4 linked regions of the Homo sapiens genome follow. The protein of the gene in region 4 purifies or fractionates together with the protein of the main gene of each other region. This does not show direct contact. Each region holds a gene or a part of one and is shown on either strand. Other genes may lie near its edges.

Region 1 (7,022 bases), on a different chromosome or scaffold from region 4:
TGCAATCTCAGCTTGCTGCAGCCTCCACCTTCTGGGTTCAAGCAGTTCTCCTGCCTCAGCCTCTTTTTTTTTTTTTTTTTTTTTTGAGACGGAGTCTCACTCTGTCGCCCAGGCTGGAGTGCAGTGGTGCAATCTCGGCTCACTGCAAGCTCCACCTCCTGGGTTCACACCATTCTCCTGCCTCAGCCTCCCGAGTAGCTGGGACTACTGGCACCCGCCACCACGCCCGGCTAATTTTTTGTATTTTTTTAGTAGAGACGGGGTTTCACCGTGTTAGCCAGGATGGTCTCGATCTCCTGACCTCATGATCCACCCGCCTCGGCCTCCCAAAGTGCTGGGATTACAGGCCTGAGCCACCGCGTCCGATCCTGCCTCAGCCTCTTGAGTAGCCGGGATTACAGGCGCCTGCCACCACGCCTGGCTAATTTTTTTTTTTTTCTTGAGACAGAGTCTTGCCCTGTGGCCCAAGTTGGAGTGCAGTGGCACAATCTCGGCTCACTGCAAGCTCCATCTCCTGGGTTCGCGCCATTCTCCTACTTCAGCCTCCTCAGTAGCTGGGATTACAGGCGCCCGCCACCACGCCTGGCTAATTTTTTTGTATTTTTCAGTAGAGACAGGGTTTCACCATGTTAGCCAGGATGGTCTTGGTCTCCTGACCTCGTGATCCACCCGCCTCGGCCTCCCAAAATGCTGGGATTACAGGTGTGAGCCACCGTGCCTGGCCCCAGCTAATTTTTGTATTTTTAGTAGAGATGGGGTTTCACCATGTTGGCCAGGCTGGTCTTGAACTCTTGACCTCGTGATCCGCCCACCTCATCCTTTGAAAGTGCTGGGATTGCAGGTGTGAGCCACTGCGACTGGCCACAAGCCATTCTTCAACTCATTTACCTGTTTGTGGCCTGTCTCCACCCTAGAATGTGAATTCTGCCAGGGCAGGGACCATACTTATGCCCTCTTTTGTCTGCTTAGTAGAGTGCCTGGCACATAGGTGTGGACGTTAAAGTGTTTGTTAAATGCACATGTGATCTGATGACCAAACTTCTCTGCTCTCATGCATAGTTGGCTGAGAAAATACGGGGAACTGTGCTGGGCAGAGCTCCTGTGGATTCAGGTTTTCACATCAAGCAGGGTCCATGAGGACACCTGTTCACTTGGTAAATCTCCTTCCTGGCTTGGTCAGCTCCCTTCCTGCTTTCTTATGTCTGCTCTTCCAAACCTCTGCAGCTTGAAGTCCTGATTTCCTGGTTTCTAGTATTATCTTTTTCCTTCTGTCATTTTCCACACACTACCATGATGTTCTTTTTCTTTTTTTTGTCCTTTGTTTTTTTTTTTTTGTTTTTTTTTTTTAGATAGGTTCTTGCCCTGTTGCCCAGGCTAGAGTGCAGTGGTGCAATCATGGCTCACTGCAGCCTCGATCTCCCAGGCTCAAGTGATCCTCCCATCTCCCAAGTAGCTGGGACTGCAGGCATGTGCCACCGCACCTGGCTAATTTTTTGTATTTTTGGTAGAGATGGGGTGTCACTGTGTTGCCCAGGCTGTTCTCAAACTCCCAAGCTCAAGTGATCCACCTGCCTTGGCCTCCCAGAGTGCTGGGATTATAGGTGTGAGCCATTGCACTGGCCAGAATGTTCTTCTAGTACTGTCATGATCCTACTCTCTTTTATCCATTTATTTATTCATTGTTGTTAGTTGTGAATTGTGTGCCAAGAACCATGTTAAACTTTGAAAAAATAGTGCCAAGCAAAGCAAATGATAATCCCCACTATGGTAGGACTTCCTCTGTCATGGGAAGACGGGTCCAAGAGAGTAACCGCATGGGGGTGTAATAAATATGCATTTGGTGTTTACTTGTGTTAAGCACCTGTTTTATGTGCTTTACACATATGAATGCAGAGTCCTCACAAAAACCTTGTTAGTAGAGGCGTTAGAGATGTACTCTGAATGATAGTGGTTCCTGGCAGATCAGAATCCAGCCTCCACCCCTGCGTGTGACTTTGTGTAGTCAGAAACTGATGGCCAGGCGAGGTGGCTAACGCCTGTGATCCCAGCACTTTGGGGGGCCAAGGTGGCTCACGCCTGTGATCCCAGCAGTTTGGGGGGCCAAGGTGGCTCACGCCTGTGATCCCAGCACTTTGGGGAGCCGAGGTGGCTCACGCCTGTGATCCCAGCACTTTGGGGGGCCGAGGTGGCTCACGCCTGTGATCCCAGCACTTAGGGAGGCCGAGGTGGCTCACGCCTGTGATCCCAGCACTTAGGGAGGCCGAGGTGGCTTACGCCTGTAATGCTAGCACTTTGGGAGGCCGAGGCAGGAGGATCATTTGAGGTCAGGAGTTCGAGATGAGTCTGACCAGCATGGTGAAAACCTGTCTCTGCTAAAAGTACAAAAAAAATTAGCCAGGTATGGTGGTGCATGCCTGTAGTCCCAGTTACTTGGGAGGCTGAGGCAGGAAAATCACTTGAACCTGGGAGGCAGGGGTTGCAGTGAGCCGAGATTGTGCCACTGCACTCCAGCCTGGACAACAGAGCGAGAGACTGTCTCAAAAACAAAAACCAAAACCAACCAACCAACCGAAAAAATCACCAGAAACTTATAAGGGATTTGAAAGAAAATGTATGGTCCTGTGGAGAGTTTGGGGGGCTTAGTTTGTTTGAGATGAAAGCAGTTACTTATTTATGGTGAGCTAAAGAATGTTTAGCTCCAGGTGGAGGAAACCTGGTGTTGGAAGGATTGGAGTTTTTACAAAAATTAGCCGGGCGCCTATAATCCCAGCTACTCAGGAAGCTTAGGCAGGGAGAATTACTTGAACCCAGGAGGCGGAGGTTGCAGTGAGCTGAGATTGCGCCCCTGCATTCCAGCTTGGGTGACAGAGTGAGACTCCGTCTCAAACAAAACAAAACAAAACAAAACAGAAGGTTCCAAGTTGGGACCATAGAGCAGAGGAGGGCAGGCAGCTGGAGAGGGAGGCTGGCCAGCATGGAGGCCTCCCTCTGGCTCCGTTTAGGATTTTGGGTTTTTCCTGCCACTGTTAGGAAAAACCCAAAATCCTAAACAGAGGCACTGAGCAGAGCGTGGAGAGTGGACGGGAGGGGAGTGAAGGGCAGGAGGAGCCCTGTCAGTGCAGAGGTGAAAGGGGAGGTGGTGGGGCCAGAATGGGGGTGACTGTGGAGAGGAACCCCTGGGTTTCTGGGCAGGTGGGTTGGGGGCTATTTGGAGTTCAGTGTGGATGCATTCAGTATGAATCTTGGTGAAGCCATCCAAGCGATGTTTGAAGAAGGCAGCTGAACATGTGGGTTTGGGCTCAGATGGCAGGTCCAACCTGGGGAGGTGAGAAGACAAGTGAAGCCCAGTAGTGTCTTGGGAGTGGGCAAGCCAGCCAGGCTGAGGGTCACTGGAGAGAAGGGCCACTTCTGCAGCTCAGCTTCCAGGCCGCCATCTCCTCCATGTTCCCTTCTTTCTGGACCAGCTCTTCAGGTCCTGAACACCCCCGAGGTCCTTACACTCCGTAGACGACCATGCTGCTGTTTCCTCTCCCTTCCTCCCAGATCTGACAAACACCCTTTATCCTTCAAGAGCTAATGGAAGTGACTCCCCTTGGGGATGGCTTCCCAGCCTCTGCCACTCCTTCGTGCTACCATGGTGCCTAAAATCTTGCCTCTCCCCAGCACGCGCCATGCTTTGGCCATGTTTAGATCATGCTCATTTTCCTGAAGAGACGTGTCCAGTCTCTGCTAGCTGCCTTCACGTTCCCTTCATCTGTCTGGTGAGCCTCTGCGTTTTTCAGGCTTAGCTTTGACATTATCTATGCATGTGTTCATCAAATATTTACTGGACACCAGTGTCAGGCACTGAACAGAAGGCTGGAATTACACTAATGCTGCTCACACAGTTCACTAAGGGACACGATCACACTAAGGGAGCGGCACAGAGGCCCCAGGAATGGAGGGGCTCTGAAAAAGAGTTTGCGTGGGGACAGCTGGGGGTCGGTGTTCCAGGCAGATGGAAATGCAAAATTGAAGAGCTGGAAAGACACCTAGGGGCTTCAAAGTGTCGTTTGTGGCTGGGCACGGTGGTGCATGCCTGTGATCCCAGTGCTTTGGGAGGCTGAGGCAGGAGGATCACTGGAGGCCAGGAGTTTGAGACCAACCTGGGCAACATAGAGAAACCCTGTCTCTACAAAAACATTTTTTTTTTGAGACGGAGTCTCGCTCTGTCGCCCAGGCTGGAGTGCAGTGGCGCGATCTCGGCTCACTGCAAGCTCCGCCTCCCAGGTTCATGCCATTCTCCTGCCTCAGCCTCCCGAGTAGCTGGGACTACAGGCGCCCGCCACCACGCCCAGCTAATTTTTTGTATTTTTAGTAGAGACGAGGTTTCACCGTGTTAGCCAGGATGGTCTCGATCTCCTGACCTCATGATCTGCCCGCCTCGGCCTCCCAAAGTGCTGGGATTACAGGTGTGAGCCACCGCACCCGGCCTTTTTTTTTTTTTTTTTTTTAAAGTGTCATTTGCTGAGAAGGAATACAGGAGATGAGCCAGCGTTGGGGAAGATGTTGGGTAAAGTATGGAAGTAAAGTGTTTGGGGACATTTGAATGTACTCTGTGGACAGCTATGAATGCAGCCCCAGAGCTAAGGAGAGAGAGCTGGTCGGGTTGGGTTTGGGGCTCATTGGCTTATGGTTGGCAGCTTGGGCATGGGATGAAGGAATGTGCATGGCGGGGGGTGGAGCGCCTGGCGCACTGACGTTTAAGGGGTGACAGAGGAGCTGGGGCTCCGGGAGGCTGAGGGGAGCAGAGGAAGGATGGCGACTCACCTGTAACTGTTTCCTGAGTTCTCTGCTCAGAGGATGGAGACCTCAGCATTTTATCTCTGCCTTTCCTACCCCTGAGGTTCCCTTTTCTTCTCTGTGTCGGGGATCTTCCTGCTGGAGTCTGTCAGCCTCTGGCGCCTTGTGGAGGGAGCCGCTGTGCTGCCCTGGTTGTTTGTAGACAGTGTGCCCTGGGGGCCTTCCACTTCCAAAACAGGTTTTTGTTATAGGAAGTAGGGGGAAACACAGAGACCTGTCTCTGCCCCGAAATACCAGGGACAACCGGTGAGCCCACAGCATAGCTAGAGCTGCCCGTCTCGGGAGGTGCTGGGCAGAGACCAAAGATGGGTGGGGCTGCCCTGGAAGAAGCGAGTGCAGACTGGGCCTTGGATTCCCCCTGTCTTTGTGTTGTTTCTTGCAGCTGGATCAGATCTGCATTTCTTTTGACGAAGGCAAGACCACAATGAACTTCATTGAGGCAGCGTTGTTGATCCAGGGCTCTGCCTGCGTCTACAGTAAGAAGGTGGGCCCTGCTTGACGCTGGTCTTGGCATTTTGGTGGCCAGTGGGACCACAGTCGGCTCTCCTTCTGGGGCAGGTGCAGTGGTCGTCCCGTCTGTGACCTACCTCCCTCTCTCCTCAGGTCTCAGCCAATTCCTCAGCACCTTCCAACACCAAGAACAATTTTTAATTTAAAATCGCACAGCCAGGCAGGGAGGGTCTTTTGTGCTGTTGGGCTCTGTTGTCTTGGGGGAATGACACCTGCTGTGTGCACTTGGACACAGCCCAGGGTGCCACCTGCACCCACCTTCCCCTTCCCCGTCCCCTACTTGTGGGTGCCTCATTGTCAGCACCTAGAAAGTCCACAACCACCACCCTCACGGTGGGGCCTCTGTTCTGTGGAGGAGAAGGACAGGAAGTGAGTGACGGGCTCTGTCCTGCAGGCCCCGTGGCGGCAGGAGCTGGGACAGGGCAGGGCCAGGACAGGAGGAGGGGCTGGGGTGATGCTGGCGGGAGCACACGGGCGGAGGAGCAGCAGGGCTGCAGGCCGTCGGCAGAGTGGGTGCCAAGCACGAGGGGCCTCACCACCAAGGACCGTGTGATGAGGCACACTGTGGGAACCACAGTGCTGTCAGGGTCACACGTTGAGAAGGCCACGCTCGCGGCTGCGTGGACCATAGAGGGCAGAGGAGAGATGTGGGTGGCCTCAGCTGGTAAAGTAATTCTCATGAGATTCCTGGTTTGATTTGAGAATTATTTTTGGAACCAAAATTGGTGGTTTCTTGTACTGGAGGTTTGGTGGTGGTGGCCAGGCCTCGTGGGGGCACCGATGGATAGCTGGGAAGGCCTTGGGGGTGGGCCCCTCCTTTCTGGGTCCTCACTGCCTGCATCTGGTCACCAGGTGGAATACCTCTACTCACTCGTCTACCAGGCCCTTGATTTCATCTCTGGAAAGAGGTGAGTTCTGCAGCCACTCACTGTGCTGCCCTGCATGTGGCCAGGGAGGCCCCTGCAGCTCCTGGGATGCCCACGGGATGTGCTTCTCTCTCAGGCGGGCCAAGCAGCTCTCTTCGGTGCAGGAGGACAGGGCCAATGGGGTTGCCAGCTCCGGGGTCCCCCAGGAGGCAGAGAATGAGGTGAGTTTCTTTGGCATGTGGTCCCCGCCCACTGTGTGTTTGCCTGGGCTCCGCCCCCACGAGCTCTGTCTCCCTCCAGTTCCTGTCGCTGGATGACTTCCCTGACTCCCGGACTAACGTGGATCTCAAGAATGATCAGACGCCCAGTGTGAGTCCTGGCCTGGCCCCTCTTAGGCTGGGGTGAGGTCAGCACTTTCCCTGGGGCTGTGTTGAGCTGATGGGGTGTGGGAAGGTGTCATTGCCCCATGTGGGTCCTGTTCTCCACTGGAGTGGAAGGGTGCCTGGCTCACCCACCCTTGGCCTCCATGCAGGAGGTCCTCATCATCCCCCTCCTGCCCATGGCCCTGGTGGCCCCTGATGAAATGGAGAAGAACAACAATCCCCTGTACAGGTAGGGATCTGAGCCCAGCGACGGGGAGGGAGGCCTGCCTGGGAAGGGTCTCTACAGCAGGCGTGTTTTTGCCAGCACAGCCGTCAGGGTGAGGTCCTGGCCAGCCGGAAGGATTTCAGGATGAACACGTGCGTTCCCCACCCCAGAGGGGCCTTCATGTTGGAGCCAGAGGGCATGTCCCCCATGGAACCA
Region 2 (7,440 bases), on a different chromosome or scaffold from region 4:
AGAATTTGGATTTTCTTTAATGATAAAAATGCAAATGACTCACGTTTGGTCATCCACTCCAACACAGCACATTCTAAAGAACAGGAGTTCAAATCCTCCTTCTGCCAAAAGATGTTGTGTCTTCACACACAAATAAGTAATTATGGATTATATTACTACCACAAATTTCTGTTTCTCACTGAAGGCATATGACATTTTAAAAAAGAACAAAAAATCAGAAAGGAAATGTTTCAAGTCTATTTTGAGGTAAAGCAATCAATTTACCATTTATCTTCCTCAGACTTACATATGAAAGCCCCACACACATGCGCACACACAAGATCCCCAAAATGTTGACAACTGTTGAAGCTGCACAACGGATACCAGAGTTCATTATACTATTCTATTTTTGCATATATTTGAACATTTCCATAATATGCAGTTTTTTAAAATATGCATGTGTGTGTCTATAGGTGTTTATACATAAACTCCCAATAAACTGACATAGAAATATCCAATTGTTCAAAGCTTTCATTCTTCAAAAGTAAGTGAATTTCTTTTTTTTTTTTTTTTTTTTGAAACAGTCTCTCACTCTGCCACCCAGGCTGGAGTGCATTGGCACGATCTCGGCTCACAGCAACCTCCACCTCCTGGGTACAAGCAAGCGCATCCAGCTAATTTTTTTGTATTTTTAGTAGAGATGGGGTTTCACCATGTTGACTAGGCCAGTCTCAAACTCCTAACCTCAAGTGATGTGCCCGCCTCGGCTTCCTGAGGTGCTGGGATTACAGGCGTGAGTCACCACGCCCGGCCAGAATTCCATCTAGCTACTTTCTTATTCTAGAAGTTGTACTGCAGGTGACCAGACCATTAGAGAAGGTCTAGTGAAAGAAATAATTAACTGCCCCAGAATAAAACAAGCCTAACCTTGAAAAGAGGCAAAGGGAAAGGTGCTAAACAGTTATTACAATTAACTGCATGTTTATATTTGGTCCTGTTATCCTCTAACACAGGTGGGTAGGTAGAAAAGGGGGAAGTATTTTAGGGCCAGATTTCCTTTTGATTCTTTAAGTTGATGGGCAAGAGAGGCTGGAATAAAGAAATCTAAAAAGTCTCCATTATAAATGATAACCAAGCCAGGCACAATGGCGCATGCCAGTAGTTCCAGCTACTTAGGAGACAAGAGGGGAGAATCGCCTGAACCCAGGAATTCAAAACTAGCCTAGGCAACAGAGTGAGACCTCATCTCTAAATAAATAAGTTAATGAATTAATTAAAGGTAGAATTGTATAATATATGAATTATACCTCAATTTAAAAACAATTTAAGCCCTATACAGTGATGCATGCCTATAGCCACAACTACTCATAAGACTGAAGCAGGAGGATAGCTTGAACTTAGGAGTTTGAGAACAGCCTGGGCAACATAGAGAGGCCTCATCCCCCTCCCACCCCCACCCGAAAAAAAGCATTCATAGCTCATCTTAGTATAATCAGCAACTTCCAATGACTAACTATGCTTTCCTGCTAGACATGAATTTATAAAACACATAAAAATTATACTGTATCTGCTTCAATTCCTTTTTTCATATTGCCATTCAATTTTCACAAGATTACTTTAAATGCAATCCTAAATTCATCACCAATTTAACTTTTGTTAGTTATGTCTAAAAATAAAACTAGTCAAAATTAAAAATACTAACTTTGCAGCAAATTAATCTTGCATCAGCACTACAAACAAATTTTTAAACTTATTGTAGCAAAACATAACTTCGACAGAATCAAAGACATTAATTCTCAAGTCCAAAAAAAGGTCACAAGAAATTATTTAAAGTGGTAAAGGGAAACGCAGACTTAGGCATACAAGCCAAGAAAAAAAAAATTAGAGATAACTCCTCCGCTAGAACCTCCCCCCAATACTTCCATAGCAACAATTATTTCCTTAGCACAAAAGTGATGTGTTCACTTTCACAAAACCTGGATCATCTAAGTTTGCACAATTCCCTTCAATCTAAAAAACAGATGAAATTGTTTCATTTAGGTGAGTAGAATTTTGTGTCCCTATACACGAAAAAAGTCACCATCAGTGTGAGTAAACCACATGGCTCCAGCTTTAAGATCTTGTTCCCCAACCCACTGAAAAGAGTATATGCTTATAAAATATTCATGGACTTACCAGGTTAAAGACAGTTTCTACAATATCCCTATTGGATACTTCTCCAACTTCAACCAAACCGGTCAACACGGCAAATTTCATTCTGATGCCCCTGATGGGGAGCCCTGGTTTCAGAGACAATGCACCCCCTTCAGTAGGGGTTTCTTCTCTCCCTCCACCTCCCCCGTCATCACCTGTTGGTGGCGGGGAAGGGACACGATTGTCTTCGCTAGCCATTGCTAGCTCACGATAAAGGACAACTCAGAGTCACCCTGGGACGGCAGTCGCTGCACTGGTAATGAGCACAACACACGCAATGCAAAACGAAAGGGTCCCTCTTCCAACTTGTGGAGATACCCCAAAGCAGTTGATGTGGAAAGTCCTTGGCGTCGCCCTCCTCCTCTTGGAGAATATTTGTCCAATCTCTCTCCCCGAGGCTGACAACAACGCCAAACCCTATTGGAAGATTAAATATATGTTAAATAGGCTAGGTTTTGTTTTAGGGTTTTGAGGGGACAAGAGGGAAATAGTTATTGTCGGTCAAGTAAGTTACTAAAGGCACCCCACTACTAGCCACCCGCTTCTCCCGGGCTCAAAAAGCTGGGTTCTGGGTGAAGGCAGGTCCAAGAGGCCCCCGAACAGGCTCACTCCTCCCCCACTCTCGTGCAGGTTCTAGGCGCAGGGTAACCTCTCCTCACAGGTGCACTAGAAAGAGAAACTGTCGCGGGGAAAGGAGGGATCGGAGGAAAGAAGGGGGGCCCACAAGCTATCACAGAGGTAGAAAGTTCTTCCTCACCCAGATACTCCGGACTCGTCCTCACCCCCCGCCCAGGAGCAGCGAGACCGAGGTGGCGGCGGAGATCCAGGGCAGGAAAAGGCGGGGGAAGGGGGCGGTGATTATTCTAAATGCTCGGCCCAGTGGGAGGAGTGAAGCACCTCTCTCAGGCACCTGAGATTCGACGGGAAGGGGTGGGGAGGTGTGTGTGGTGGCAGGAAGGGAGGGGAGCGGCCAGAGAAACCCAGCGGCCACCGCAGGGAGAGAAGGGAGGACAGAGAGGTCAGTGCACCTGGTCGCAGCCTCCAAGTTTCCCTAGTCCGCTCCCCGGGAGTCCGCGGCTGCACAGAACTCCATGGCTTCCTGGCCCGCCCCGCCCCTGCGCTCAGCCTTTGCAAAAGCAGCCGCTGCTGGCGCTACGGGCGCCGCGGCTGAGGCTGCTGCGAGTGGTGAGGATGCTACTGCCACAGCTCGCCCCGCCACGGGTCGCGCGGCTGTCGTGTGCCCACTGAAGCTGCTCCCGGCCGCCATGACAGCGCCGAGTGCTGCCGGGCGCGGCGTGCGCGTGCGCGAGCGCGAGTGCGCGGGGCGGGAGGGCGCGAAGGCGGAGGCAGCCGCGCGGCGGGGGCGCGGTGACGACGCGCGGACAGCCAAGGGGGCCCCGAGCCAGCCGGAGTGCTGGGCTGGGGCTTCCGGCTGCACTAGGCGCGCTGCTCTGGTAGCACCAGGTGTGTACCCGGCCCGGCGAGGAGAGACCCTTCCGTCCGAGGGCCTACACTTTCCCCTCTCCCACTCTCGGACCTCGGGAGGTGCTTCTGCCAAGTCCTGAGGCGGGGATTTTGGCGCTCCTGCTGTTGTTAAGTTACCGTAGGGTCTCTTGGCGCGGAGGGAACACGCGCTGCGTTGCCTAGGTGTCTCATTGGACTTGGAGAAGAACACCTGAGGCACCTCTACGAGCCAGAGAGGTGACGGCGCTGGAGCCAGTGAGGCTGCTGTCCCTGCCCAATGGGAGCGAGGAGTCCCCACCCCTGGCTGCTTTCAGCTGTTGCCCGCCCGCCGCTCTCGGCGGAGACTTGGAGATTTCCACTGGGATACCTCGGCAGCTGCCGCCATTCGGGAGGGGAGGGGAGGGGACCGAGTCGACGAGGAATGGGAAAGATTCCTTGCTTTGCAGCTGCCGCGCCACGAAACCTCTCCCACATTCATTCTAGGCAGAGGATTCCTGAGACAGCTGCTATAAACAGCGTGGAGACAGGGTTCCTTGTGCCTGTAGACCTCCGAAGGGTTTTTTCCTCTCGTGATTTTCCAATGTGAAGATTAGGCTCGCGTCATTCTCAGAGTAGATCAAAAGATAAATTATATTAGGTAGTACAGATAGGTCCTCATACTCAGTGTCCCTTCTTTCCACCCGCTATTAACAGTAAACCATTCTTCCTAGTGAGTGAAAAATAAATTTAGAGGAAGGTGGTTTTTCACCCACGTGTATCCTTTGAGGTCAAAGGGCCTTTTTAAAAATACGCCTAGCTCCTAAAATGAAAGTGAAGCAAAAAGTGGGATTAAACAAAGGAAGAATTCTAGAGAACTTAGGAAAAAATTATAGTGGTTTGAGAAATAGTTTCCTGAAGAAAAAGTTATTTGAGATGGCCTTGAGAAGTGGACAGAAGCCGGGCGCGGTGGCTCACGCCTGTAATCCCAGCACTTTGGGAGGCCCAAGCAGATGGATTGCCTGAGGTCAGGAGTTCAAGACCAGCCTGACCAATATGGTGAAACCCCCGTCTCTACTAAAAATACAAAAATTAGCCAGGCATGGTGGTAGGCGCCTGTAATCCCAGCTACTCGGGAGGCTGAGGCAGGAGAATTGCCACTGCACTCCAGCCTGGGTGACAGAGGAAGAGCGAGATTCTGTCTCAAAAAAAAAAAAAAAAAAAGACAATTTTAACTCTCACATGGAAATTTGGGAAGAAAAAGGTAACAGACGCAAAAAGCAAGGGAGGGCTGGGTGTAGTAGCTCACACCTGTCATCCCAACACTTTAGGAGGCTAGTGCAGGAGGATCACTTGAGACTAGCCTAGGCAACAGCAAGACCCGTGCTCTTTTTTTTTTTTTTTTTTTAAACGGAGTTTCGCTCTTGTTGCCCAGGCTGGAGTGCAATGGCGCAATCTCGGCTCACCTTAACCTCTGCCTCCCGGGCTCCAGCGATTCTCCTGCCTCAGCCTCCCAAGTAGCTGGGATTACAGGCATGCGCTAATTTTTTTTATTTTTATTACAAGCCCGCCTAATTTTTGTATTTTTGGTAGAGGTGGGGTTTCACCATGTTGGCCAGGCTGGTCTCAAACTCCTGACCTTAGGTGATCTGCCCGTCTCAGCCTCCCGAAGTGCTGAGATTACAGGTGTGAGCCACCGTACCCGACCAAGGTCTCTATTTTTTTAAAAAAGAAGCAGAAGAACAAGCAAGGGGATATTTTCTTTAGAAAAGTGTTACACGTTTTAAAAATACTAAAATGAATTCAACTGCACCAAATCTCATGTGGTTGCAAATGTTTGTTAAAGATTTGTTTTCTGTAAGTAGACTTAGATATTCCAGAGATGAAGCAGACATCTTTCTGATGATCCGAATTGCCAACACATTTCCAAAGTAAAAGGCGACATCAGTGGCTTCCCATTTCTGAAATCTCTGAAAAACTAAACACCTCAAGTTTGTTTCACATCATTAATGAATAACTCTGGAATAAGGGGGAGTAGGGTGTGCCTGCAGAAGAGACACAACTTTCACTTGACCTTTCACACATCCGTATTTCTAAAGTGAGGCATTAATCCTAAAAGGCCTCTCATCGGAGTTTGTCTCCTCAGATGGGGCAAATGGTGTGTTAATATATCTGTCATATAAGTGCTAATTAAGTATTTGTTAAATGAATAAATGTCTTCCATTAAGAAGCAGATGATAATAATGAAAATGCCCCCAACACAGAGTGATCACAGTCTAAATGATCTAGGGCTAAGGTTTGTAGCTCATAAATTTGCAAGCTCACTGTTAATGCTGTTCTACTGATGAAACAATGAACACAGACAATTAACCAAATATTTCTAAATGCCGGGTACAGTGGCTCCTGCCTGTAATCACAGCACTTTGGGAGGCTGAGGCAGGCAGATCACCTGAGGTCAGGAGTTTGAGACCAGCCTGGCCAACATGGTGAAACCCCATCTCTACTAAAAATACAAAAAAATAGCCAGGCGTTGTGGTGGGTGCCTGTAATCCCAGCTACTTGGAGGCTGAGGCAGAAGAATCGCTTGAACCCGGGAGGCAGAGGTTGCAATGAGCCACGACCACACCTTTGCCCTCCAGCCCGGGCAGTAAGAGCAGAAACTCCATCTAAAAAAAAATACATATATATATATATATATATATATATATATGCACAAATTGTCAACTATTTATAAAAATTTTTCAACCTCTTTGCCCATGGTTAAAACAAAATAGTTGGCAAAAATTGGAGGTTCACTGCAGAAAGAAGCATAAGGAAGGTAGAAGGCGAAACTCTTCACTTCTAGGCAAGCCAGTTAAAATGCAATCACTAGGCCCGGGTGCGGTGGCTCATGCCTGTAATCCCAGCACTTTGGGAAGCAGAGGCGGGTGGATGACCTGAGATTGGGCGTTCAAGACCAGCTTGACCAATCTCTACTAAAAATTACGTGGCGCATGCCTGTAATCCCAGCTACTCAGGAGGCTGAGGCAGGAAAATCGCTTGAACCCAGGAGGCAGAGGTTGCAGTGAGCCGAGATTGGCCACTCCAGCCTGGGCAACAAGAGCACAACTCCATCTCAAAAAATAAATAAAATGCAATCATTGTGGATTATTATTTAGGTGTACGACATAGAATCTTGGAATGATTCCAGATGAACTATCTGCCTCAAATCTTAAGCTCCTTTATAGCACAATACTTTACACATTACAGGTATTCATATTATTTGGATTGAGTCGAAACTCTAAAGTTACTTGCTTTAATTTTTCTCACCTGAAAGCCCTTGTCTGCGCCTACACAGCTATTAGCAGTGACAGGGAGGAAAATCCTGGTATGAATGGGTATCTTGGCTGGGCACAGTGGCTCATGCCTGTAATCCAAGCACTTTGGGAGGCCAAGAGGGGAGGATTGCTTGAGACCAGCCTGGCCATCATGGCAAGACCTCCTGTCTACAAAAAGTTTTAAAAATTAGCCAGGCATGGTGGAACACATCTGTAGTCCCAGCTACTGGGGAGGCTGATGTGGGAGGATCACTTGAGCCGAGGAGTTCGAGGCTGCAGTGAGCTGTCATGTTGCCACTGCACTGCAGCGTGGGTGACCAATCAAGACCCCATATCAAAAACAAGTAGGGGGAAGCCAGACGTGGTGGTGGCTCATGCCTGTAATCCCAGCATTCTGGGAGACCAAGGTGGGCAGATTGCTTGAGCTCAGGAGTTTGAGACCAGCTTGGGCAACATGGTGAAAACCCGTCTCTACAAAAAATACAAAAATTAGCCAGGTATGGTCCCTGTG
Region 3 (7,022 bases), about 130 Mb from region 4:
GTGATTTTTTTACAAGGGTGCCAAGACACTCACAGGTGAAGGAACAGGCTGAAAGAAACAGTGCTATGTCAACTGGATAGTCACATGCAAAGGAGTGAAGGTGGACCCCCTATATCACACCATATTCAAAAATTAACTGAAAATTGATCAAAGACCTAAATGTGAGAGCTAAAACTATAAAACCCTTAGAAGAAAACACAGGAGTAAATCTTTGTGACTTTGGATTACACAACGATTTCTTAGCTATGTGATACCAAAAGCATGAGTAAAAAAAGAAAAAGATAAATTGGACTTCATCAAAATTAAAATGTTTTGTGCCTCATAGAATACCATTTGAAAAGACAACCCACAGACTGGGACAAGTCTTTAAAAATCATATATCTGATAAGGTATATATATAAAAATAACTCTTTCAACTCAAAAATAAAAGATAACCCAATTAAAAAATGGGCAAAGAGCTTGAATAGACATTTCTCCAAAGAAAACGTATGTATATGGCCAATAAGCCTATGAAAATTTACTCAACATCATTAGCCATTAGGGAAATGTAAATCAAAACCACAAGCAGATACCACCTCATACCCACAAAGATGGCTAAAATAAAAAAGACAGACATGGCAAGTGTTGGTAGGAATGCAGAGAAATAGGATTATCATACGTTGCTAGCAGGATTGTAAAATGGTGTGGCCACTTTGAAAAAGTGTGGTGGTTCCTCAAAATGTTGAATATAGAGTTACCATACGACCCAGCAGTTCTCCTCCTAGGTATACACTCAGAGGGAATGAAACCACACATCTATACAAAAACTCATACAAGAATACTTACAGCAGCATTAGTCACAATAGCCAAAAAGTGAAAACAACCCAAATGTTCATCAACTGATGAATGCATAAACAAAATGTGGTGTATCCTTATAACTGACTATTACTCAGCACAAAAAGGAATGAAGTACTGATAGATGCTATAACATGAATGAGCCTTGAAAACACGCTATAGGTGAAAGAAGTCAGACACAAAAGACAACACAGTACATGACTGCATTTATGCGGAATGTCCAGAATAGGCAATTTTTTTTTTTTTTTTTTGGACAGAGTCTCGCTCTGTCAACAGGCTGGAGTGCGGTGGCGCAATCTCGGCTCACTGCAACCTCCACCTCCTGGGTTCAAGCGATTCTCCTGCCTCTGCCTCCTCATAGCTGGGACTACAGGTGTGTGCCACCACGCCCAGCTAATTTTTTGTATTTTAGTAGAGACGGGGTTTCACCATGTTGGCCAGGATGGTCTCGATCTCCTGACCTCGTGATCCTCCTCCCGTCTCGGCCTCCCAATGTGCCAGGATTACCGGTGTGAGCCACCACGCCTGGCCCAGAATAGGCAATTTTATAAGGAAAGAAAATTACTGGTTGCCAGTGTTAGGAGGAAAGGGGCATGGGGAGTGACTGCTAATGGCTATGGGGTTTATTTTTCAGCTGATGGAATGTTCTGGAATTAGTCTGTACAATCTTGTGACTATACTAAAACAACTACATTATACACTTTCCATGGTGAACTTTATGGTGTGTGAACTCTGCCTTAATAAGAAAAAGCAAAGAGAGCAAAGTGCATCTAAGTGACTATACAAAATTTTTAATGTACAATTAATGCCAACAATATATGTCCTTTCAGCTTATGAACAATGCACTGGAAACATGGGCTCTTTGCGTCCCCGAACTTTCATAATTTTTAAGCATCATTAAATCACCTCAACTTGATATTGCTTGAAAAAGTCTGTGCCACCGTAAATCCGTAACCTGTTTAGACGAAGTCTGGAGCCAACACAAACATTCAGCATTTTTCCAGAGTACATTTTCCTACCACATTTAGAAAACCTGTTTATTATAAATGTAGTTATCGCTCTGAATTGGAGTAATACATGCTAATATCTAGCCTCCTGAACCCAATTTCACGCTGACCTTCTAGGCTGAATAATAAAAGCAGTAATGTAATCATCCTCAGGGCGCTTTCTGTGCATCTCGGCACCTATCTCAGTGTTCCGCATACATGTGTGCACAATTGTATATATGAGAACACTTGTGTGCACAAGCACCTGTCTCTCCACTGATCCTTAAGAGATGGAGCTCTGTCTCACAGACTTGTGCATCTCCAATGCCTGGAACGCATCGGGAAGGACCAGATCAAGGTTTATTGAATAAATTAATAAACCCAATTATGTAATTAATCCTCTACGTACATGCTCTTTCTCTCTCTTATCTGTGTCTCTCTCTCTTTAAATCACTTTCTTAAATGTTGTTTCTACAGACTTTCCCAACAGTCGTCTGGGAAAGATGGGAGGGTGTTACAACCGGAAAACGACAGGTATACCCCTAGATCATGCAGCTATTTAGTAACTAAGCTGGTACAAAAAAGCAGACTGCCCTGCAGTGTTATTTTCATTTTTTAATTTTTTAAACAGACTGTCGCCCAGGCTGGAGTACAGTGGTATGATCAGAGCTCACTGTAGCCTGGAACTCCTGGGCTCAAGCCATCCTCCCACCTCAGCCTCCTGAGTAGCTGGGACCACAGGGGCACACCACCACGCCCAGCTGATTTTTATATATATTTTTTAAGAGATGGGGTCTTGATGTGTTGCCCAGGCTGGTCTTGAACTCCTGGGCTCAAGTGATCTGCAGGCCTCAGCCTCCCAAAGTGCTGGGATTATGGGATTACAGGCATGAGTCACCACGCCCAGCCAGCTGTTTCAACTCTTAGGGGTGAATAAATCAGAAAAAAAAAAAAAAATCCAAGGTTTTAGACTCTACTTACGGTTGTCTGAAATCCAGCAGTATTACCTATCTGACAGTGATAAAATCTGACATACCTCCAGATCCAACTGTTTCACCACTGCTGTCTATGTTGATCTCCCCTGAGGGTTCGGAACGGTTAGATGTCTGCCTTTGGTAGGAAAAAGCTTTAAAAAAAAAATTACAGTCATTAAGCTAAAAATGTGTTATACTTTTAATAACATTAGCAGGGCATGTTACTCATTTAAGTTACAACATTATTACTGAAATGAATTTCAACCTCTCTCATGAAAAAAGTACAATGTTAAAGCAGGTAAATAAGGAGGTAAGAAAAACATTTTAAATATTCCACAAATTTTTAAAAGATAATCATTCAATATTTGAAAATGTATTGATCCATTACCTGATGAATTTCTCAGTAAGGTACCAGGGTGACTCTCTATTACAGAAAACGTAGGACCTAAAAACAAGAAGAAAGATAAGAAGGAAGAAGTCAGTATCATAAACTGAGTAATTATCCACGGAGGAATCAAAATCAAGATAATTAGGCTCAAAGACAAGGCAGACAGATTCTAAATTGCTGACAACTGATAACGTTCTCCTTGGGTATGCATTGAAACGGAGATTCATCCTAATACGACCAATGCCCACCAATGCAAAGCAACAGTAAAGGTAGCCACCAATGTCACCTCTCAGATATGAACATCTGAAATACTTTTAAAAGGCCTTGCAAATGTATCAGGCTTGCCTATTTAAAAAGTTATTTGGCAAGAAAATATACTAAAAATGGTTTTGAGAGTAAAAATAGATCATGCCATACCTATTACTTTTGCCACAGAAAAGAACGATTCCCTTGCAGTCTATTTCTCAATGAGCACAAGACCGGTTTACTGTCCCAATAGTCGCCATACTCACTGTTAATCAGGAGCTCCAGGATACTCTCCGACGCACTGGTAACAGTCAACTCCAGACAGTGTGCAAAGCTGGACAGTGCCTTGCTGCGGACAGTAGGCGCCTTGTCTAAGCAACGATCAAACATAATTTCCTGCACCAGGAACTTATGCTTTAAGAACTTCTGATGCTCCAAGGAGAGGGTGTTATCCACCTCTCTTTCAGGCAGTTCTAACAGAGCTAAGACAACATCAAGAGTAAAAACCCGGTGTGGGATCTGGTAAAGCAAGATCATAAGAATTGCCATCAGATAGGAGTAAGAACCAAAGAACCCTCCTCATTCAGACCTAGAAAAAGAGACCCTTTTAAAAAGAGTTTAAAAAGGACCCAAGGTTTTATGCAGAGCTATCTCCTACCTTGGAACTTCGGGAGTATTTGTAAAGCCAGGCAATGAACATAGCGTATTCCCCACAAGGAAGTTTACTGAGCAGCTGGACTAGGGACTGGGCTGCAAAAGTACGATACTCTGATTTATCTACCACCTGAAAAGCAAAAAGAGAAGTTGACCAACCAATATCCACCCGCAGGATGGCTGAAACATATTCTGTAATATAAGTTGAAAGTCAGTGAGTACAACTAGTTCAATGACCTTTAAATGTTACGTAAATGACTAATAAATTTTAGGTTTTAGAACACTTCAAAACTAATCTAAAGGAAATCTATAAACCATCTCTCCAGAAAAATGCACATACAAATTTAGTATACAATTTCAGAGAGTTTTTAGATCCCCAGGTTTCATAAGGTTCAAATTAAGAATCATTTGTCTAAATGGTTATAAAAATGTAGAGATCATCATGGAAATTTGAACACTGGATGTTTGATAATATTAAGGAATTACCGTGAAAGGATATGATGGAATTTGCTTCAAAACACAATCCAGTATACACATGTTGGGGGATGTGGGGTAGGGGTTTAAGTGACACAAAACTGTGGAACTCGGTGATGGGTATGTGGTGGTTCACCAGCCTATTTTCCCTGTTTCTGTGTGTATGTTCAACATTTTTCCAAAACAAAGTTTTTTTGTTTTTTTGTTTTTTATAGAACACTTTTGTCTAGGGGACCATCTAGTGAACATTAAATAAAACCACTTTAAGTAACAATGCACACTCATTCCCAAGAACAAATACCCACACTCACACACACACACACACATTTATCTTCACACACGATATACTTCCATGTTATTAATATTACTAAGGCAAACAGTACCTTGGCACAGATGTGCTGCAGTAAGATACGGACGACTGGGAATATACTCTCCTTTAATTCATCCACAAGGGCGCTTTGTAAAAGAAAAACACATCTACTGTTCACAATACAGTCAGCGACTGTCCCCAAAAACCACTACTCCTATATTTAGAAATCCTAGTTATTAAAACACTCTACCTCACGCTATAAGAGTGGTTTCAGTAGAATGAAGAGTGAAGACATAAAATGTCATCGTAGAAAACTGTGAAGTAGTTCCCGTGCAGTTTTGAGAGCTGCTGCAGAGTAGCTAAGTCATCAGGTAAGAACAAAAATGTAATCTTCATACAATTCTTTTGACTACTTACTAAATTTCATATGAAGATGTAAAATATATCCTTTGGGGATAAATATAAAAATTGACTAAGACACAGTACCACCTCATGGTAGCTCAGTGAAATGCATTAGTAACATTACTTCTCCAAACTTTAACCCAATAAGAAATTTCTTTTTTTTTTTTTTGTAGATGGAGTTTTGCTCTTGTCGCTCAGGCTGGAGCGCAATGGTGTGATCTCGGCTCACTGCAACTTCCCCCACCGGGTTCAAGAGTTTCTCCTGCCTCAGCCTCCCGAGTAGCTGGGATTACAGGTGCCCGCCACCACGCCTAGTTTCTGTATTTTTTAGTAGAGACAGGGTTTCACCATGTTGGCCAGGCTCGTCTTCAACTCCTGACCTCAGGTGATCCGCCCGCCTCGGCCTCCCAAAGTGCTGGGATTACAGGCATGTGCCACCGCGCCCCGCCTCAAGAAGAAATTTCTACAATGCCCAGACTTGATCCATTTTTAGTGATGTTTATCTGTAACATTACATGAAGACTATTGCGACTGGCATATGAGAAACTCTCATGGAAAAAACGAAACGATCGTGTTTTCACTTAAAACATTTTAGTTACTTAATGTTTTAAAAAGTCCTTAGTGAGAGACATTTGCTCAGTCACAAGATGACGTCATACACACCCCATGTCTCCAACTACCCTGCACACTGTGCACACCCAAGGCATGCACACACTTGCACATGCACACCATGTCTCGGCACCACCTCCACACTGCACGCCAAAAATCAGTGAAGGAGGGAAGGAAAAGCCAACAACGCAGCAAACATGTCCTTGCCAGTGAAACTAAGGCATGAGAGTTTTTAAGTGAAGCTGAGTGACCCATGAGAGGAAAAGTAGTCTAACACTTATTGCTACGGAGGTAAAAAGCAACTCAATCCTTTCCTTCAAGTCATTTCTACAGAGGGAAAGGAATAGAAAAGTGCAAAGAAACAAGAAGAAAGTGGCAAAGAACAAAAGCAAAGAGCTGCAAAGTAGAGAGCAACAGAAAAGGGAAAGAGGTGAACTGGCTGCAATGAAGCAGACAAGGGAAAGGAGGAGAGGCCACCATCCTCTCTCTGAGGCTGACCCACATATTGAGCGCAAACAAGCTGGAGGCTGGCGCTGGCCCGTGTTCTGCAGATTCCTATCTCTTTAACAGTGCCCCAGCTGGGAGCCTACCAACAGAGACCCAGACACATAAAGCACATTAGCTACGAAGTGCTTGGTTTTCACCCCCAAAACCACCATCAGGCCAGAAATTTTAAGTCTACATGTATCAGAAATCTTAGTGCAGGGCCCAGAGTACTGAGGGAGACTGACAGGGTGAAAATTCACGATTTGTGTGCTTCACCTGATAAACTGGACCGCCTGGTTTCTACAGTTGATGACTTGGGAGGTAACAGCAAGGGGGGCACGATGGGATCCTTCACCAACTTCTAACATTAATATTACACTGAGCATTTGATGGAAAACACAACTGATGACCTAGAAGAGAAAAGAAAATTCAATTTAAGATCGGATGGAGAACACAAGGGTCTCAGACATAGTGATGCAGACTGTAGTAAACCATTTCAAGCCATCTGAAGGTAGGTCAGGCTGGCATAATTGCTGGCTGAACACTAGGGATATATTTCTTAAACAATGAGCAGGGATACAATAAATGCACAATGTAAACAGTGTGAAAGAATGGCTGACAGATGATATGTCTGATAAAAACAATACCTAGTTTCTCTC
Region 4 (7,589 bases):
AAGCAATCCTTCCACCACAGCCTTTCAAAATGCTGGGATTACAGGCATGAGCTGTCACACCTGGTTTATGAAACCCTTCTTAAGTCCCAATAACACTGACCATTGCATACATGTCTCCATTGTTCCCTGCGCAGACTTGAGTAACTGTGACTGACACTCTTGCATTTATCTGCTAACATGTCTGTTTTGCATTTATCTGTTGACATGTCTACTTTCCTTTACTAAACTGTGGCCGCCTCAAAGCATGGAGTTCGCTCATTTTTTCTTGGAATACATAGTGTCTATACACTATGTGCACAGTATGTGATATGGTACATCATAAATATTTGTTAAAAGACTATCTTAAAGGCTTTCATGTGGAAAGGGAACTGTGCTTGTTTCATGCACATCAATGGGCAAAAATGGAAGACATAACAACATGTATTTTTAAGAATTTTCAAATACTCAGGGTTATTCCTTTCTTCAAAGCAGGGATTTCTGGGTTCTGAGAATTCTCTGAATTGATACTGAAATTCTGAGTACAATAAGAGTATGTACCTTTTTCTAGAGAGAACATACAGTTTTAGGCTGAGTGCAGTTGCTCAAGCCTGTAATCCCAGCACTTTGGAAGGCTGAGGCAGAAGGATCACTTGAACCCACGAGTTCGACACCAGCCTGGACAATACAATGAGACCCCCATCTCAACCAAAAACAAAAAAAATTTTTTTTAATTAGCCAGGCATGGTGGCATGTGCCTGTAGTCCCAGTTACTTGGGAGGCTGAGGTGGGAGGATCAGTTGAGCCCTAGAAGTAGAGGCTGCAGTGAGCTGTGATCATGACTCTGCACTCCAGCCTGGGTGACAGAGTGAGACCCAGGGAAAGGGAAAGAGAAAGGGAAAGGGGGCCAGGAAGAGAGGAAAGGAGGGAGGGAGGGACAGAGGGAGGAAGGAGAGAGAAAGAAAGAAAATACATAGCTTTTATAAGATTCTCAATGGTGTATGTAACCCCAAAATGGTTAAGATTTTTTGCTGCAAGTTTCAGTTACTGGAATGTACCATTCAAGGTAAGTTTTTTCCTAGGTTATACTACTTCAGTAGCTTCTCCTTGTCAAAAACAGAATTTACAGTATTGGTAGCTTAATAATCTTAAAGTATTTATTGACTGCCCATTATATGCCAGGTACTGAAGAAACAGTGGTAAACAAGACAAAGTCCCTACCCTTGCAAACTTACATTCTAGAAGGTGAAGACAAAAAAACAAACAAGTAAACACTTAAGAATATTCCATATCATATAGTGATGCCTATCATGAAGAATATAAAACATGATAAAATAGAGAATGATGGGAGAAAAGAGTTATTTTAGTTAGTGTCATCAGGGGAAGTCTCTCTGAGGAGGTTTCATTTGAGCAGAAATTTGAATGATGAGAAGGGCACTGAGGGAAAAGCACAGCACTTCAGGAATAAAGAGAACTGAAGGTACAAAGATCCTAACATGAGAACACTGAATACCAACACTTGAGTTCTCAAGGGAACAACCCATGTCTAATCTCCACTCTACATTTTCTACAACGTTCAGAAGAGTGTCTCCCACTCACAGTCAATAGTACTTGTTCAAGATAATTCACCATAATGGAAAGTAAAAAAAAAAAAAAAAAAGTTTTCGAAGAATCTTCACTGTTCAGGATCATCATGAATTGACTCTTCTTCAAAGTAGACAATATCATTAGACAAAGCAGGTAAAAATCTTTGGGATTATTGCAATAAGACAGAAAGGAAAAAAAAAGAACAAATACGCAAAGATGTTTTAGAAGTCCGTCCCAAGTGGATAGTCTTACAAGCATAAAGATTATCAGGCAAATTCTGTAAACAGAATTATGTGTTCAACCTGCCCTCCACCCCTAAAGCTTGGTGCTTTGCATTTATAGTGTGTATGATGCTCAAGAGAATGGAACTACAGTCAATGTGCATAAAGCAGACGGAAGTGGATTACAGTTCAAAAGGAGCTGTCCAGCAATCAACAGTTTAAACATTACTGGAAGTGTTCAGACACCGTAAAATCATGTCTCAAAGATATTACAAGGATAATTTACAGGAGAAAGTTACCAGTAGAACTTCATGACCTATAGAAAACTGTTCTGGTTCCTTCTCCCAGCCTTCAGCACCGTGCCTTTACACTCATTCTGTAAAAGGCCCCAGTGCAGCTAAGAGGATGAATTTTTAAACACCACATACATCATGCCAACAACGAAGAATTAACAGATAAATACTGTTTCAATAAGGGGAACGTAATAATTTGTTCATAACCACCTCAGTAACTGAAACTGGGGTTATTAAAATCTTCAAGATATATTTTTAAAGGCACAAGAAGAGCCTGAAGCAGTGAGCGCCCAGCACCAAGTTGAAAAAACATAACGACTTAAGGTTTGCTGTACCAATTCCATTTGCCTTGATTTCGTACCAAGCGGCGCGTCAGAAAGTACACGGAAAACCTAAAGAGGGAAACCCAACTGGGAACCCTTGACTCAAAGCACGTGAACAAATGGTGACGAGATGAGTTAAGCCAGCGGGGTAAGAGAGAAGGGACTGCGCCTAAACGGGAGTACGCAAGGCCACCTAGAGGATGCACAGACCTGCATGCATACGTTCCTGACCCTTCCAGCAGCAGAACCATCTGGGCCGCCACCCGCTGATAACAACGGAACCGTGGGCATTGGCCCTTCAACGCCGTCTCGCCCGCCCTCTCCAGTCAGTTTGGTGGATATTTCGGTGAAGGCTGCAGACTCTCAGAGTCACCCCTCCCTCAAGCAGCGTTCTCCGTACTCTTCGGCGCCGGGAAGCTCAGAGGGAGCTGGCCTGCTCTTACCTTCAGGTGTCGGCGGCGGCTCCTGCCGCTTCCCGCGGGACAGGAAGGCCTTGGGCAGCAGCAGCGACAGAGCCAGGACAAGCCCAGAAGCCAGAGCGACTCTCTGCACTGTGGAGTACGCCATGACTGCTCACGGTGGTCGCAGGTGCAGACGCCAGCCGGAACCGGAACCGGAACCGGAGCACGGGCTGCCGCTCCCGACCGAACCGCGGGCGGCGCGGACGGCGTCGCGCGAGGGACAAGGTGCGCGAGGCGCACGCATCTTCACCTCCACTGTCGGGAGTTGACCTGCTCCTCCCGCGTGGTTACCCGTCGCTGTAAATGGTACCCTCGCCTTCCCGTTCATACTAACTAAAAACTCCTCCCTCACTCCCCATGTTCATCTTTTACTGAGTCCTGTGCATTCTACCGCCTACACATCCGGCGGTCGTGCCCGGATCTCTATCCCCACTTACCACCACTGCCCCCCACCCACCCGTAGATCACAACATCCAGTTTCTCCTCATCTCCATGATCTCGCTGTCTTCCAGCTTCCACTCATGCCCCTCGCATTCATTATCCGTCTGCAGCCACAGGTGATAATGCTAAAACACAAGACTAATTCTCTTTCTCTCCAGCTTAAACCTTTTAACTCTCCATTATCTTCAGAACAATAGTTAAACTCCTTTCTATAACCTCAACGCCCTGCATGATCTGGTCTTACCAATGCTCCTTCCAAACTGGATGATTTGCTATTTCTTTAGCATATTGCTTGTCTTCAGGGAAGCTTTGCTTGTCCTGTTCCCACTGCCTGGAAAATTCCTGACACCATCTCCAGTTGTCAAAAACTTCTCTGAAGAACAGCTTAAAAACACTGCTCTCTCGAAACGTTTTCAGTCAGCCTCTCCTTTCTCTACAATCCCACCGTTCTTTGTTACTCTCTTCATTCGTTCATTTAACATTATTTTAGTTTTTACTATGTATTAGACCCTCAACTTGGCACTACAGGGTCTGATGAATAAAATGGATTCCCTTTGTAGGACAGATAATTATCCAAACAAAAAAAATGCAGGAAATATTCTGGATCCCCGAGCAGTCTTCTCAACTGGTACGAGGAAAAGTCAAGAAAAGCCCCTTTGAGAAGGTGAAATTGAGTTAGCTGTTGAAAAATGAGTAACTTATAGGCAGACAGGTGGGAGGGGTTAGAAAGGTATTCCGGAAAAAGGAGGCCAAAAAAATAAAGGCAAATCTGGAAGCTTCCTGGTGTGTTCAGAAAGCTATTGGTAATTCATTTTGGCAGGGCCATAGAGTAGTGACAGGACACGAAGTGCACAAATATAAGCAGGAGCTACATTGTGAAAAGCTTAGGTAGAACTTCCAGTTAAACATGACAGATGTAACATATGCATTTATCTTTGCTTTCCTGGGACAGTGCCCAAAAAGGAAAATAAAGAAATAAAGTATATAAACTACAAGACTAAATGCAATGATAGAAAACATGACAGCAGATGAGAAATGTCAATTTTGTAAGACGCACACAACACTGTCCAATAGACACATAATACCAGCCACATATGTAATTTAAATTTTTCCAGTAGCCACATTTAAAAAGTAAAAATAAGTAAAATTTATTTTAATAATATTTTAAACCAAGATAGCAAAAATATTTCAAATTTTATCAGCACGATAGTGTGGCTCGTTGGCGCCCACAGTAGACAGTGCAGGTGTAGAGCATAAAAAGTTAAATGCCTGTGGACTGAAAGCCTGTAAGGAGTGAACTAATTTGCCCCTCAGAACCCATGCTCTTAAGAATTGGAGGTACTGGGTTCCTTTAAAGCCAAGGGTGCAGAGTGGGTCTGAATGAAGGATTGGCTGGAAATCTGATTAAAAAGCAGTTGAGACTGGGCACAGTGGCTCACACCTATAATCCCAGGGCTTTGGGAGGCCAAGGCTGGAGGATGGCTTGAGGCCAAGAGTTCAAGGCCAGCCTGGGCAACATAGGGAGAGCCCTAATCTCTACCAAAAAAATGTAAAAAATTAACCAGGCATGGTGGTGTGCACCTGTAGTCCCAACTACTCAGGAAGCTGAGGTGGGAAGATCACTTGAGCCCAAGAGTTTGAGGCTGCAGTGAGCTATGATTGTGTGAAACCACAATTAATTATGATATATAAGATGATAATAATGCCTGAATGAAGCCAGTAGGGGCACCCACTCCAGCCAGGGTGACAGAGTGAGACCCTGTCTCTAAAAAAAAATTGTTTGATTTTTTTAAAGCAATGGATATCTTCTGAATCTCTTTCCTTGATTCATGCAGCCAGATGGGTGCCACTGCTGGCTTCACTCGGGCATTATTATCATTGATGTTATTAACATCACTAAAAGTTAGAGTACTAATTATGTTTTAGGCATCTTACATATCATAATTATTCCTCCCAATAACTTCAAGAGGTAAGCAATATTATTATATACCCATTTCACAGGTAAGAAAATGGAGCCCCAGAAAACATAATTTACTTGCCAACAATTACACAGTATAAACTGGATGCTATGATTTGAACACAGGCATGCTTACTCAAGAATTTGCCCTCTTAGCTACCAGGTTTACTGTCTGGGGAGGTTTAGTCAGAAAACCTCTGGACTCCTGGACTATAGATGCAGCTTAGGGAGGAGGTGACTAATGGGATGTGGTCTCTAAGAAATACAGAGGGGTCTGGAATGACCACACTCCCCCCCGCCCTCCGCCACCAAATTCTAGCTTGGGTAAATGGTAGACATTAATTCTATATAACATGATTTTAAGAATAGAAGAATCAGGTTTGTGAGAAAGATGAAGAGTTCAGATTTTGACTAGCTGAATTTGAAGTTCCATGAAATATCCAAGTAGAAATATCCAGTTGGATATATGGGCCTGGAGCTCAGAAGAGATGTTTGGGCTAGAAACAATAGGAAATCATCAGCCCATCTATAGTAAATGAAGTCTAGGAGAAGATGGCATTAGTGAGAGTGCTCATGTGAAGTTGTAAGAAGCCACAATGGAAACCTAGGTCACAACATTATGTTGAAGTTCCCATGTATGAGGACAGAAATGAGGTGGGAAATAGTGATCCAAGTGTTAAAATCTTTAATGAATGTGGAGTTACTACAAGGTTGGAAGGTGACAGGAACAGAAGAAGTAATGGGCAGCCAGATGACATGCTCTTCTAAGGAGCTGTGTTTTTTTTTAATTGTTTAAAAATTTTTATTTATTTATTTATTTATTTATTTATTTTTGAGATGGAGTCTTGCTCTGTTGCCCAGGCTGGAGTGCAGTGGTGCAATCTCGGCTCACTACAAGCTCCGCCTCCTGGCTTCACGCCATTCTCCTGCCTCAGCCTCCCAAGTAGCAGGGACCACAGGTGCCCGCCACCACGCCCGGCTAATTTTTTTGTTGTATTTTTAGTAGAGATGGGGTTTCACTATGTTAGCCAGGATGGTCTCGATCCTTGTTATGCACCCACCTCAGCCTCCCAAAGTGCTGGGATTACAGGCATGAGCCACAGCGCCTGGCCAGGAGCTATGGTTTTTAAAGGAAGAAGAGGAAGAAGCAATTTGGAAGCAGCAAGGGGAAACAAGTTGGGCATCTATTCTATTCCCAGGCTTTAAGCTGTGGGAAGAAAAATAGCTCTTACTTTGGGAGATCTGCAAGGGAAACAGAACCCAGAGGCAACAGCCTAGTTTTCATTAGAGGAAGACAGGCCGGGCGCAGTGGCTTATGTCTGTAATCCCAGCACTTTGGGAGGCCAAGGGGGGCGGATCACGAGGTCAAGAAATCAAGACCATCCTGGCCAACATGCTGAAACCCACCTCTACTAAAAATACAAAAATTAGCTGGGCGTGATGACATGCGCCTGTAATCCCAGCTACTTGGGAGGCTGAGGCAGGAGAATCGCTTGAACCCAGGAGGCAGAGGTCGCAGTGAGCTGAGATCGCGCCACTGCACTCCAGCCTGGTGACAGAGTGAGACTCCATCTCAAAATAAAAAAAAAAGAAAAAAGAAGAAGAAAGTTAAGAGAAACTTCAAAGAAGTCAAGGATATAGGAGTTTTTCTGATGATAGCTCTTGACTCTATACAGCACGGTAAGTGGAAGCTTTGGAAGTCAGAAATGGAGTCAAAGTAAAATATGAAGTGAGCAGGATGGAGATGAGGGGCAGTGTGCAAATTGATGACCTTGGGGGCTTGGAATTTAGATGGTGGCCAAGGTAAATGGGCAGAGATCGTGATCTCATTAGTCCTAGAAGTGGCCTAGAGAAAGGTGAAAACACAGTTATAGTACAGAGTATTTGGCTTGGAACATATTCATTGTTGCAGTCAGTTGGGATGTGCACCTGGAAGACATGGAAGCCTCCTTAAGGCGACAGAGCTGGTAGGCAGCTCATGGAGCTGGGGCAGCTTGGAGTGGGACCTGGGATGGCTGCTCTCTCTGGTGGCTGGTGGTATAACATCAGAGCTGGGAGTGCACTAAAATTGAAGATCTTAAGGGTTTAGGTTTTCCAATAAAGTATTGGTAGGGGGCTGGGCGTGGTGGCTTAGGCCTATAATCCTAGCACTTTGGGAGGCCTAGGTGGGTGGATCACCTGAGGTCAGGAGTTCGAGACCAGCCTGGCCAACGTGTTGAAACCCCATCTCTACTAAAAATACAAAAATTAGCCAGGCATGGTGGTGCATGCCAGTAATCCCAGCCATCCAGGAGGCTGAGGCAGGAGAACGGCTTGAACCCAGGAGGCAG

What was found.
Region 1: the proteins of RIC3 (region 4) and NCAPH2 purify together in Homo sapiens (affinity purification with mass spectrometry; 4 studies listed by BioGRID and IntAct, with this or other methods). This does not show direct contact.
Region 2: the proteins of RIC3 (region 4) and LRBA purify together in Homo sapiens (affinity purification with mass spectrometry; 4 studies listed by BioGRID and IntAct, with this or other methods). This does not show direct contact.
Region 3: the proteins of RIC3 (region 4) and NCAPD3 purify together in Homo sapiens (affinity purification with mass spectrometry; 4 studies listed by BioGRID and IntAct, with this or other methods). This does not show direct contact.

Annotation. Positions count from the first base shown.
Region 1 is NC_000022.11:50,511,223-50,518,244, forward strand, and holds part of NCAPH2 (condensin-2 complex subunit H2), read left to right. Parts: intron 1-4,497; exon of another isoform or gene 4,498-4,525; coding exon of another isoform or gene 4,526-4,552; intron 4,553-5,224; coding exon 5,225-5,326; intron 5,327-6,204; coding exon 6,205-6,260; intron 6,261-6,354; coding exon 6,355-6,439; intron 6,440-6,518; coding exon 6,519-6,587; intron 6,588-6,750; coding exon 6,751-6,830; intron 6,831-6,905; exon of another isoform or gene 6,906-6,910; coding exon 6,911-7,022. UniProt on the Homo sapiens protein: Regulatory subunit of the condensin-2 complex, a complex that seems to provide chromosomes with an additional level of organization and rigidity and in establishing mitotic chromosome architecture.
Region 2 is NC_000004.12:151,012,273-151,019,712, forward strand, and holds the start of LRBA (lipopolysaccharide-responsive and beige-like anchor protein), read right to left. Parts: upstream 3,013-7,440; 5' UTR 2,930-3,012; intron 2,590-2,929; 5' UTR 2,371-2,589; coding exon 2,155-2,370; intron 1-2,154. UniProt on the Homo sapiens protein: Involved in coupling signal transduction and vesicle trafficking to enable polarized secretion and/or membrane deposition of immune effector molecules. Involved in phagophore growth during mitophagy by regulating ATG9A trafficking to mitochondria.
Region 3 is NC_000011.10:134,199,960-134,206,981, forward strand, and holds part of NCAPD3 (condensin-2 complex subunit D3), read right to left. Parts: intron 6,774-7,022; coding exon 6,640-6,773; intron 5,013-6,639; coding exon 4,940-5,012; intron 4,213-4,939; coding exon 4,087-4,212; intron 3,948-4,086; coding exon 3,695-3,947; intron 3,240-3,694; coding exon 3,183-3,239; intron 2,947-3,182; coding exon 2,857-2,946; intron 1-2,856.
Region 4 is NC_000011.10:8,166,023-8,173,611, forward strand, and holds the start of RIC3 (protein RIC-3 isoform a precursor), read right to left. Parts: upstream 3,004-7,589; 5' UTR 2,968-3,003; coding exon 2,844-2,967; intron 1-2,843. UniProt on the Homo sapiens protein: Molecular chaperone which facilitates proper subunit assembly and surface trafficking of alpha-7 (CHRNA7) and alpha-8 (CHRNA8) nicotinic acetylcholine receptors.